2 separate regions of the Homo sapiens genome follow, and region 1 is linked to region 2. The links come from fine-mapping of genetic effects on gene expression. Tissue or cell type: monocytes. Region 2 holds a variant in brackets; the other region holds the start of a gene. All regions are shown on one strand. Distances are from middle to middle.

Region 1 (6,397 bases), 57 kb before region 2:
AAAAAAAAAGTTAGAGTTCCTAATACCTCCCAGTTACTGCTGCGGAGTGTGTGTTAAGGGGCTACAACCATTTCCCCCTTGGCCTAAACATCTTCATCAATTCGAATGGGGGCCATACGCCACAGTGCTGTCCTGTAACTCTATCAGCAGTGCTCCTGCTGTGGGAAGATCTCCTGAGTCTTCTGGGAAGTGCTGAAGGCACCAGGGGTGCCAGAGAGCCAGGAGGGCAAAATGCTGCTTCACCCCTGTGCCCAGGAGCCCCAGAGACCTGAGACTGCTGACTTCTCCATGCCTGACTTTTCCTTTCTAAAATGTGGGGACTGTGGGGGAGGGCCAGGTGCAGTGGCTTACACCTGTAAACCCAGCACTTTGGGAGGCCAAAGCGGGAGGATCACTTGAGCCCAGGAGTTTGAGACCAGCAACATAGTGCGACCCTGTCTCTACAAAAAGGAAAAATAAAAAAATTAGCTGGGCGTGTGGCACTCGCCTGTAGTCCCAACTACTTGGGAGGCTGAGGAGGGAGGACTGCTTGAGCCGAGTGGGTCAAGGCTACAGTGAGTTGCGTTTGCACCATTGCATTCCAGCCTGGGTGACAGTGTGAGACTCTGTCTGAAAACAAAAACAAAAATAAAAAAACCAGCTGGGGGCAACCTTCCTCCCCACTGGGATATTTAGAGGAAACAGGGAATGTAAAAAGACACTGCCCAGGAAAAAGCATCTCTATGGTCTACAGAATGACTGCTATGCTGAAGTTAGGCTATCTTCAGATGACTCTTCCTCCCAGTGTGACCTGCAGTGTTACCTTCAAATAAAAACATGGCAAGAAACACCCTTGATATACAATAGGGCCATGGATGGAAATATCTGGATACGGTAGAAATAGAAGAACCTTGTATTTTCTCACATAAAGGGGGTCACAGGACAAGCTGGAAAAGAAGCCAGACTTTGAGGTGGAAGACTCCCACTGGAATTGCTGGATCATTTAACTAAATACCCAACCTTGGCTATGCGCCCCAAGCTCTCTAAATCTGTTTCCTAACCTGGAAAGCAGTGCTGATAAGGCACGCATCTCACAGTGGGGCTGTGAGTAGGAAATGATGTAATTCAGTTGGAAGCGCTTTTTTCAAATGCTTTATTCAAATGCAAAGCACATCTGCCGCTAAGTCCAAAATGCCCCCTCCGGTTCTCTCAGCCCCTCCACTCCTATATTCTTCTTCCCCAGTCTGTTTCTCATCCGGAGACGCCTTTCCACCTATCAAGATGGGCTGATCTTCAAATTGCGACTGATTGTCCAGCAGATGTAACTATATTCACCAAACTATCTCTCACAATTGGACTGTGGGGGTGGTTGGTAACCGCATTTAATCCTGGGCTGACAATGGGACTGGATCCCTGGTTACACGGCCCTACGCGGTGGCCCTGCGGTAAACGGCCTCTCAGCCCAAACCCACCCTGGTTACTGAGCATGCCCAGAACTCCCTCCCGGGCCACCAAAGGAGGGGCACCATTTCTGCAGGATTTTGCCACTGTGGAAAGAGAGGCGGAGCTGTCATCGCGCAGAGGCAGGGACTGATACGCGGAAAGGACGTGGAGATGGGAATAAGCAATGAAGGACCAGCATTGACCGTGTTAGGCACACAAATCTAATTGCCCCCTGGTTACTTACCAACCCGGTGGCCGTGGCTCAGCTACTGCACACACACACCAAGTTCCTACACACCTTTCCCCTGCTTGGCCCCACACAATTCATGGCACTCACAGCCCACATCCTACCTCCTACTCCGCACCAGATGCGCACCCGCACTTACTCCCCAAACACGTGGCATCTGGTAACCCGGGAAACGCTGCGACTGTGGCGCAGTGCGCAACAGGGGCGGGGGAACCAGGCGGGGCTCTGGGGCGCAGGGGAAAGCTGGAGATTTGGGAAGGGGGTTTCAGTTTGTTTTTTCTCTCTTTTTTTTTTTTTTTTTTTTTTTTTGGTGGAGGAAGCAGAATAAACCAAATCGCGACACGTTCCTGCGCCCTTCTTGGCGCAGTGGCGCAGACACGGTCCATGGCGCCTTGCGCAATAGAGTCGGTCTGCACCCCGTCTTTAAGTCGTGGCCCTGGGCTGGAATTCCCGACTGCACTCTTTGCTACACCCCCATAGACCGCAGACCTGCGTCTCTCTCTATATTCCTCTCCCATCTGCTACGCCCCTCTGAATTTCTTCCCGCCATGTTGTGTGCCCCCCCCCCACTCCCCCGTCACCCCAACCACACCAAAGTGGATGCACGAAGCGGGAACCTTCTCGTTTCAGTCTCTGCTCCCTGCAGCCTGCCAAGGCGAGTGGACAAACTGAAGCTGGGGTGTCCAGCGTCTTGGCTGCCCCCCTCCTGTCCACCCTGCCTGTGCTATCCTTGCTCATCTTCAGTGCCATCCCGCTTCCCACACCCTGAGTAGCCTGGCGCCCGGCTTGTCCCCTTTTCCCATCCATCAGCTCACACCCAGGGTAACGGGGCGGGACCCCTATCCACAGTGCGCCCTCGCCCCCGGCCCACCTCCGCCATGCGGCGGGGCAGAGGCGCCTGGGCCAGGCAGGTGGAGGAGAGGGGCACTGGGGCTGGGGGCTGCGTCCTCCGGTCCTCACTCCGCGTGCCCTGCCCGATACTTACCCAGGCGCGGAGAGCGGTCAGCGGGCCCTCCGCTCCGCATCCATTAGCTGGTGGTCTGGCCGCTTCACTTCCGGAGCGCGGGGCTAGGGGCGGTGCCGCCCTCCCCTCTCTCTCTCCTTCCCTCCCCTCCAGCCCTCCCCTGAGCACCGCTCCCCTCCCCGGCGCCGCGCCCCGCCCGCGCCTCCCTCCTCCCAGCGCTGCCGGGAACTGGCAGCCTTTCGGCTCCCGCAGCCGCAGCGGACGCCCTCCCAGATCCAACTTTGCCGCTTCCCCGAGCTCGCGCTGTAGCCGCGGGGGGCGTGGGCAGGGAGGGGAGAAGCGGGGTCAGGGGGAGGGACCGGGAGGGTGGGTCGCCGGCTCGCCAGCCCTCCTTCCTTTCTGTGCACCTTGCGGTGGGCGGCGAACGGCAGCCGCGGCAGCAGCTAGGGGGCTTGTGCACACAGCGAGGGAGACTTAGGGACTGGCAGACGGACGGACGGACGGCGAGGACCCTACCCGAGCCCCCGAGCCATGGCCGAGAGAAAGCAATCCGGGAAGGCGGCAGAGGACGAAGAGGTCCCTGCTTTTTTTAAAAACCTGGGCTCCGGCAGCCCCAAGCCCCGGCAGAAATTCTGTGGCATGTTCTGCCCGGTGGAAGGGTCCTCGGAGAACAAGACCATCGACTTCGACTCGCTGTCGGTGGGCCGGGGCTCGGGGCAGGTGGTGGCTCAGCAGCGGGACGTCGCCCACTTGGGCCCGGACCCGCAGCCGCCGTACTCGCGGCAGGGCCGGCGCGCCGGCGGAGAGCCATCTGTTGAATCGGGCCGGAAGGTGGAGATCCGGAGGGCCTCGGGCAAAGAAGCCCTGCAGAACATCAACGACCAGGTCGGTGTGGGGGTTGGGGGTGGAGACGGAGGACGGGGCGCGGGGATCGCCCCTCCCTCGCCCCTGAGCCCGGCGCGCCCGCCTTCATGCCCCGCCCTGGACCTCGCCTCCCGCATCTGCACGCGCACCCCGCCCTACCCGCCCCTTCTCCGCGCAGGGTGCGGCGAGGCTCGGGCTGGGCGGTGGGCGGCCGTGCGCCCACAAAGGCTGCCCGCGTCTCCTTGAGCTTGAGAGGTGGGGCGTGGGCATAGGGAATGGGCTGATCCCCTGCTGGGGCGGGCGGTGGTCGTCTGGGAGGGGGTTGGCCGCGGTTCCATTCTTCTGAAACCCTCCCGGGCGGCTTCCGATTGCAGCTGCGGCTGGGTGCCCCACCCTTTTTTTGAGCGGCTCAGAGCGTGCGGTGGAGGCTTTGCGTGAAGGCCCGCGGCTCCCCGGTGGTCGGGAGGGGCGGGGGTTCGGACGGCCGCTCCCTACAGCCTCCGCCCGCGCCTTCTGCGCTCACGTCCCGAGCTCCGAGGCCAGGACCATGGTCAGCGCCCCCCGGACCCCCTCCGAGCACCGCACCGCCCTTGACTCCTGCTCGCAGCGTGAGAAGAGCCAGGAAGGCTGTGGAGTCACCCGAGGAAACCGAGACGCTCCTAAATAGCCTATGTGGGGAACAAAGTTCCAATAAGTGTCTCAGCCGGGGCTTCACAGAGCGCTCCCCAAACCGCTATGTGGGAGGCGCTTTAGGAAGCGGGGAACTAAGTGGATTATGTTCAAAGGGTCAAAAAGACAAGAAAAGGGGGAAAACCCCTCGCACTCGAAATAGACTGTCGAAGAAGACTAAACCCCCTTTTATTGTGTTAATGGGGGAAACAAAGGCCAATTTGGTCACGCTTGATTTTAGAAAATGTTTGTCACTTTCTGACAAATATGAACAGTGAGCATTTTCAGCGCAGTAATAATCTCACACCACAATTCTTTCTTTATCTGAGTGATCCTTACACTAGTGTAATTCTTTTCCACAGCCTTAATTTCTTAACTGATAATTTACAATGCAAAATGTTTTAACACGTTTTCCGTTTCTCTCCCATGCCTGCTGGTAAAAATAATAAGTCAATCAATGAATGATTGTTGATTGAATACCTATTGTGCGCCTTGCCTTGTAGGGCAGAGGGAAGGTTAGTTATAGAAAGTGCAAGAGGTTTCTTCTTCTCAGAGGGCTTCCAGAGTAGTTGGGAGTGGTCTATACATATTCAGCGAGGGATTCCACAAGCATTTACATTTGTGTACTTACAGTGACAGCCTTTGAGAACAATTCAGAATTGGTGATGATGGTTGGGGCATGATTTGACTGTTTGCTGATGTGACATAGAGTTTTGCAGCTTTTGACTTTTGTAGGGTCAAGTCTAGGAAAAACAAGGCATTTGCTGTCATTTGTAAAAGGTGACACAACTAATAATTTATATCCAACCCCAGCCCTGCCCTCTAATTTATTCATATAAGGGAGTGTCTCATATCCATATTTCACTATGAGTCAACCAGAAGAAACTAAATCCAAAAAACTTGCTTTGTTCCAAGTGATCAGACAATTGAAGTAAAAGTTTCTAATAATGTAACTTATACTGAAAGCTGAGTGAGTGTGTGTGAAACACTTCCCTGTGTGAGTACATTGAGTGAGGGCCAAAATCATATAGCATCTTGGTTGAGTGAGTAGCCTCATGCATGGCGAGTTGTGCTGGTGATTGTGATGTCCTAGAGAAAGCAGAAAAACAACTGGAGAATAAAGAAGAAATCATGTAAAAAGTGGCAGATCAGAGGATAGGGGTTGAAAGTGGCCCACCCCTATCATGAATTAGAACTCAAGTTTGAAAGGCATAGTTTTATCGGGTTGAATAACACTTCTTTTTTCTTGGCCATTTAGAAGCTTAGATATATGAAATTCTAAATTGTAAAACTAAGGCACGCAGAGGGGGAGATTTGAAGAGAAAATACTCAAACAAACTGCAAGGGAGTTTTAGATTGCAATTCACATTGATTTCAGTTGCCCAGTTATTAGTAACAGAGGGCGATTCTAGCTTGGCCTTTCTGCAGCACCTTCCCCTGAATTTTCATGTTTAATCTTGCCTTATCATATAAGGCCTACTCAATGAGATTTTGTCATTCACGACTAAGAGCATTTACCTGGATCAGTACTTGCAATGTTTCAATATTTCATGTCTTTAGAAAAGGGGAAAGGCTGTGGCTATACATGTGTTTATATTTATAACAATGTGACTTCCGAAAAGCTCAACTGGCCCACCATTTTGACTGAGTTGACTTGTCATTAGTTGGTTTTCAACGAATGAGTTGGGTGAGTGCCAGCATCTCTGTGCATTCTAATTGGAAGCCCTGACGCAGAGAAAGGTGGGGGAGATTGAGAATGGGTGGATCCTGGGACCCTGACTCACACCATCCCTCCTCTCTTGCAGCTTTATTTATGTGTTACTAATGTATGGTCAGATGTGGCTTTGCTCATCTGTTGCACTAAGAGGCCTGCTGTTCCCCTAACAAGGCTTTGGGAAGGGAGAGAATAGGCTTCCTTGACCCACATGCCACATGGCTCATGGAAGATGAGAGATGTTGGACATGTGCATTTGCAGGAACTAAATGAAATTATATTCAGAGTATGAGCCAGACAGCACCAGAAAGCGATGGGTGTGGCTTGACTCGGCATGTCAGATTTTGGCGGAGGAAAAGAGCTGGCATAGTGGTTGTGAATGAGGAAAGCCTCTATCTTGTTACTCTCTTTTTCCTATAAGTCCACTTTGGGCTTCAGTGAGGTTACATTGATCACCACTGTGAAAGACTCTGAGCCTCTTGGAAGAGAGAGAAGAAAGGCATCTCTGTTGGCCCAA
Region 2 (6,397 bases):
TGGTGCCCCCGGTGAGGTAGTGGCCTTAGATGGGGAGAAGAAGAGATGAAGGGCATCAATTCCCACTTAGTCTCTCCAGGCTCCAGTGTTATTTTCTTCCATCAGTGCCCTGTCCCTTTAAAGTGGTCTTTTTACTATCCTACCTCCATTTCTAATTCTCTGAAGAAACAGAGAGAACTCCTGAGCCCCGAGGGACATATGCAGGCACTCATTCCTCCACTGGTTTGGCAGTGCCCACAGGAGTTACACACTGCCCACAGATGTAGAATTTAGTTTAAAGCCCACAAATGAGACTGATGGTTACTAACAGCACAACTGCATTCGGCTGTTTATTCTTTCAATGATTTCCTTATCTGCTTGATAGGAAGATAGGAAGAATTCTGTCTGGTTCCTCAAGACAGTGGAAGTGCCCAGAAGCTGGAGGGAGACCAGTCGTTGGGTTGATGACACTGTGGGGGTGGAGAGCCCCCAGCCCAAGCCTAGGTAGAGGGGCACAGTTTGCCTGGAGCTGGTAAAGCATTGGTAAAGCATCACGTGCCATTCACCTGTGACCTCTCTTTCTACAGCGTTGTACTACAAGAGGGGGACTGTGTATGGGGAACTTGTAAACATCTCCTGATCCCCCTTGGTCTCCTGAGAGCTGGCACACAAGGTCAGTAATAAATTCTCACTCCTTGAAAACAAACAGGGTGGGGGAGTAAGGAGGGCAGAAAGAGGACCAATTTATTTACAGGAAAGGTCAGAATTTTGTTAAATCTTTACAATATCCAAATGGACTACTTTCAAGCATTCACAGACTAAGCTAATAAATTGCCCCAAAGTGTCCTCTAGGGAACCGAAATGGACAAATGGCCAAGAACCATGGCGTGTTTTTGGATGAGTGAGCAGTTTTCAGTACATTGATCATGGCGGATTCTTTTAAGAGATGAAAACTCCTGAAATGTTATTTACACTTTCAGAGTTCATAGTTACCCCTTTTCCTTGGCCGTTTTCAGAATCGACACAGATTCTGAATCAAGGAGGGCCCAGTTGAGGGAGATCTGCGGTATTTTCTGGCTGTGGTGAGTACAAGCCTGAAGTGCGGGATTGAAAAGAGGAACCCGGCTGCAGTTATCATGATTGGACCTCCAGGCACAGCTGAGCTTTGTGAATGTGAGGCTTGATGCTTCCCAAGGACAGATCCCAGTAGAAAAGGAATCTGCTCGCTCTGCCTTGGATCATTAGAACCTAGGCCATGAGACCTCATCCAGTCAGGTGAATCCTCACCATCTGGTCTTTTAAAAGCCTGGGGTGAAGTCTAGGCGTGAGGGCCCCCAACTGTAATCCCACTGCTTTGGGAGGCCGAGACAGGAGGATTGCTTGAGCCCAAGAGTTCCAGACCAGCTTGGGCAACATAGCAAGACCCTGTCTACACAAAAGATAAAAAGACTTAGCCAGGCATGGTGATGCATGCCTGTAGTCCCAGTTATGTGGGAGGCTGAGGCAGATCGCTTGAGCCTAGGAGTTTGAGGCTGCAGTGAGCTATGCTCATGCCACGGCACTCTAGCCTGGGTGACAGGGCAAGACCCTATCTCCAAAAAAAAAACAAAAACAAAAACAAAAAAAAACCAAAGAAAAACCCAAAGCCTGGGATGAATCAGGATTAGAGAATGGCAGGTGCATATCTGGGAGGCAACAGGTGGAAGATGAAGCCTCGGTCACCTGGGCTGAAGAACAGGTATCTTTAGAAAGGTTCTCCTGTTCATTTGTCATTTAACTCTTGTTTGTTGAGTGTTGTGCGGTCACTGTAAGGTGGAGTGGAGGACTAGGTGGTTTAGGGGCTTTGCAATTGAGAAGTAGAGACAGACTGGAAATACTCAAGTAAACAAATGCACAAAAATACTTCCAAATTATAATTGTTGCTATTAAAGAGATAGTGCTGAGACAAGGAAGAGTAGGAGTACATGGGCTGGCATCAGGAGGGAGGTCATGGAGGGCCTCCCTGAAGCAGGGATGCATGGGCAAGAAGGAGAGATGGGAGAAGAGAGAACAGCAGCCACAAAGGGCCATTGCAGGGAAAGGAAGGACATCAGTGTGCTATGGCATGAGAGAGCTTGGGGACGTAACACAGGATGAAGCTGGAAAGGAATAGAAGGGTAAGATCAGTCGGGCGCGGTGGCTCACACCTGTAATCTGAGCACTTTAGGAGGATCAGTTGAGGCCAGGAGTTTGAGACCAACATGGGTAACATAGTGAGACTCTTGTCTCTACTAAAAATAAAAGTAAAAAATTTAAAAAAGAAGGGCAAGATCACACGCAGCAGACTTGATAAACGGTTTGCATTTTATTTATGCAAGCAGCCTGGCTTGGTGTCTGAAATTCTACTAACCAGGGTCTTCTCTTTTTAGCAGAGGAGTAGCACACTGAGCATTTATCATTCATTTAAACCTTTATGTTCGTCTGTCATGTTTCCTATGAGGGGAGGGCCAGAGCCACTGAGTGAAACTGAGTTACACTGGGTTATGAGGAAAGAAAGAGATGGAGAATTGATTTCGGGAGAAGGGGAAACATCTAAGGAATGTGGACTGGGGACAGTGGAAGGAGTAAAGAAAGACAGCCGATCACCTGTGCCTACCTCTTGCACAAGGTGGGTCCCAGTTTCTACTAAACAAGTACCTTACCATTAAAAGAACTAGCCTTGGCCAGGCGCGGGGGCTCATGCCTGTAATCCCAACACTGGGAGGCTGAGGTGGGCAGATCACGAGGTCAGGAGTTCGAGACCAGCCTGGCCAACATAGTGAAACCCCATCTCTACTAAAAATACAAAAATTAGCCAGGTGTGGTGGGCACCTGTAATCCCAGCTACTTGAGAGGCTGAGGCATGAGAATCACTTGAACCCAGGAGGCAGAGGTTGCAGTGAGTTGAGATCACGCCACTGCACTCCAGTCTGGACAACAGAGTGAGACTCAGTCTTAGAAAAGGAAAAAAAAAAAAAAAAAAAAAAAGAACTAGCCCCTTGGGCTTTGGGGTCACACAGACCCAAATTAGAATCTGGGCCTGGAACAAGAGGTTTCTTTGTGCTTTTCTCTCCTCGTCTATAAAATGAGGATCTGAAGATTTACCCAGTAGGATTTTGGAGAAGATTAAAGCAGATGTATTTAAAGCACTCAGTGCTATGCTTAGAGCATGGTAGGTGCTCAATACATGTTAATTTCCTCCTCACTGACAACATAACAGTATTTTAGAAGATTGTACTGTTTCCAGAAGGCAGACAAGTGGAATGAGAGGGATAATATTTACCACTCTTTCATAATGTTCCCCCTGGACAAAGAGCAGACCAGTGATGCCCTGTGGTGAGTGGACCCCTCACTAGGTAGGGAGTGAGCCCTTCCTCCTAGTCCATGTTTTCCTCCTTCTATAAATAGAGGGTGGAGTGGGCTGGATCTGTCGCTAAGTGTCCAGAAGTAGACTAGTTTAAAAACCTTCCTGGACCTTACCTCCGGATATTCTGTTCAGGATGTCTGAGCTGGGGCCCAGGGTGATTCTGATGGAGGGGAGTACTTGGGCACACCAACGGAAACAAGTGATCTCCAAGGCCCTGCCCTGGCTTGGAGACCAGCACGCAGGGGACCACGTGCACACTCTTTGTTCGCCACCAGAGGGCAGGCCTGAGGCACGATGGCTGAGCTAGGTGCCCTTTGTCCCCATCAGGGATAGAAAGACCCCAGGGAACATCTGTAGCCACCCAGAGAATGAGGTGCAGGGTGGGCATTGCAGGAG[T/C]TCTTCAGGAGGTGTGTGCGCTAACTGGGGATAAGAGAAAGCCCGAGTCGACTAGATTCTGTGAAGTGCATGCTTCCTCTGTGCCCTCTTGTCCAGCAGGATTTGGACAGATGAGCTTCTTGTCTTCCTGCAGGGAGGATGTGTCCTCAGAATCCTAGCAGAGCCCCCATGCTGGCCGGCAGTCTGTACAGTTCTAGCCAAAGCAGCGTCTGTTTCGGAGGGCCAGTCACTGCTGACCCTCATTTGTCACCACTGTCACTGCTGCTAAAAGGATGCAGCCACAGGGGAAGGCAGTGGGCAGGTTCCGATCCAATCTGCAGTCTCTGACCCTTCAGAGCTACACACACAAAGAAAACGATCGTCATTGCCTGATTCCATCTGCAGTGAAGAAGGCATCACTTCCAGCTCAAGTGTCCTAGTCAATGCCCTTTGTTTTGGCAAAGAAGGATTCCAGTACCTTCTCTTTACTGCCGCATTCATTTCAACCTTCTCTGCAGGCTGTGTTAGAGGCCACAGCCCTTGGCATCCAATTGCAGCACTCTGGGCATTGGGGATTTTCTTTGCCACCTCTGGGCTCTGTTTTGTCAGCAGTTTCTGCTCTGGAGTTCCCCTACTCTGTGAAATTCTGAACATTGCACTAACGCAGAGACCCAGGGCGCCACAGAAGCAGAAATGGCTACTCTAGCTCCCCAAAGGGGAACATGAAACCAAGAGCAGCAGTGGGCTAGTCAGGGAGGGAACACGTTCCGGGCAGATGCTGAGGAACTGAGAGCAGCACAGCCGCCCGAGGCACTGGAGTTATGTCTGCATCTCCCCAGCCCCACTTCCCTGCAGTTTGGATGATGCAAACATGTGCAAAGGGCTGGCTGGGTGCCTCCACTCATACCTCCCTCCCTGCATTCAGTCCTGCTTGAGCCCCCAGCCTTGTCAGGCCCTCTGTAAGGATAAGGAATGAGTAAGACTTTTTTGTTTGTTTTTGAGAAGGAATCTCGCCCTTTCACCCAAGCTGGAGTGCAGTGACGCAATCTCGGCTCACTGCAACCTCCGTTTCCCAGGTTCAAGTGATTTTCCAGCCTCAGCCTCCTGAGTAGCTGGGATTACAGGCGTCCCCTACCACGCCCAGCTAGTTTTTGTATTTTTAGTAGAGATGGGGTTTCTCCATGTTGGCCAGGATGGTCTCGAACTCCTGATCTCAGGTGATCCGCCCACTTCAGCCTCCCAGGTGTTGGGATTACAGGCATGAGCTACTGCGCCTGGTCAGGAATGAGTAAGACTTTTGAAAGAGTTTTTCTTCCCTGTGAGCTCAAACCTTGAATGGAAGAAAAATCACACTCACCTAGTTATGGTGTCGGTGAGGATTGTATTGTGTAGGTGGTTTACTGCGATGAATGGGATCACACAGGGATGTACGAAGAATAATGGGAGGATGGAGTAAAGGACAGTTTCAGAAATTGAGAAAAAATTACTAGAGACACCTTGTATGACTTCGACCTTCATTTTAGGATTGGGTGCTGTCTCCGTGTTCTACCAGGCTTGCTGATACACAGCAGTTTTGTTAGTGGAGGCGGAGCTTAAAATCTAGGCAGCTACAGCCCCGCAGAGAATAATAAGCTGTTAATAATAACATTAGGTCTTCCTGGAGTTTCAGGGGCTTGGAGAAGGGGAGGCTGCCAAGAAGGAAGGCCCGGCAAAGTGATATTCCTGACTGGGTGTGGTGGCTCACGCCTGTAATCCCAGAACTTTGGGAGGCCGAGGCAGGCAGATCCTGAGGTCAGGAGTTTGAGACCAGCCTGGCCAATATGGTGAAACCCCCATCTCTACTAATAATACAAAAAGTACCTGGGCGTGGCCGGGCGCGGTGGCTCACGCCTGTAATCCCAGCACTTTGGGGGGCTGAGGTGGGTGGATCACGAGGTCAGGAGATCGAGACCATCCTGGCAAACACGGTGAAACCCTGTCTCTACTAAAAAATACAAAAAATTAGCTGGGCGTGGTGGTAGGCACCTGTAGTCCCAGCTACTCAGAGGCTGAGGCAGGAGAATGGCATGAACCCAGAAGGCGGAGCTTGCAGTGAGCCGAGATTGCGCCACTGCACTACAGCCTGGGGCAACAGAGCAAGACTGTCTCAAAAAAAAAAAAAAAAAAAAATTACCTGGGCGTGGTGGTGGGCACCTGTAATCCCAGCTACTCGGGAGGCTGAGGCAGGAGAATCACTTGAACCTGGGAGGCAGAGGTTGCAGTGAGCAAAGATCATGCAACTGCACTCCAGCCTGGGCGACAGAGTGAGACTCCACCTCAAAAAAAAAAAAAAAAAAAAAGTGATAGTCCTAAGGGAAAGGCTTGCTTGCATTGGGGATTTTTTTTTTTTTTTGACATTAAAACTCACCTTGGTGGAAGAACCTTTGTCCTCGTCATAGCAATGATGGCACTTATTTATGCACAAAATGTTAAGGGCACCTGCCAGAGACAAGGCAGTGTGCTGGTAGCTGGGAGAAGAGGGGGCTTTTTGCTTCTAGGAGTCAAGGCCTGATGGAAGAAATGTGCAAGTCATTATAGAGTGATGGTGTTATAGCAGAGCTGAACACAGGAAGGAGTGCTTAAGGCTGTGGGGGTAGGATGGGGAAAACTTCATAGACA

Evidence for each region. PIP is the estimated chance that this variant, and not a neighbour inherited with it, causes the effect.
Region 1: DPYSL2 starts here. The variant in region 2 is fine-mapped to the expression of DPYSL2 in monocytes (TOPMed, PIP 0.98).

What each region holds. Positions count from the first base shown.
Region 1 is chr8:26,511,162-26,517,558 of GRCh38, forward strand. DPYSL2 (dihydropyrimidinase like 2) reads left to right here and starts at 2,870. Exons shown (of 14, transcript NM_001197293.3): 1 at 2,870-3,518. The coding sequence starts at 3,165. It overlaps PNMA2 (PNMA family member 2), which reads right to left and starts at 2,711. Exons shown (of 3, transcript NM_007257.6): 1 at 2,655-2,711. RefSeq lists enhancers at 872-1,166, 953-1,825.
Region 2 is chr8:26,567,780-26,574,176 of GRCh38, forward strand. The region is part of intron 1 of DPYSL2 (dihydropyrimidinase like 2); the gene reads left to right. Among named protein-coding and RNA genes, the nearest start is that of DPYSL2, 57 kb to the left of the region's middle. The variant T/C (reference allele first, on the strand shown) is at 3,761.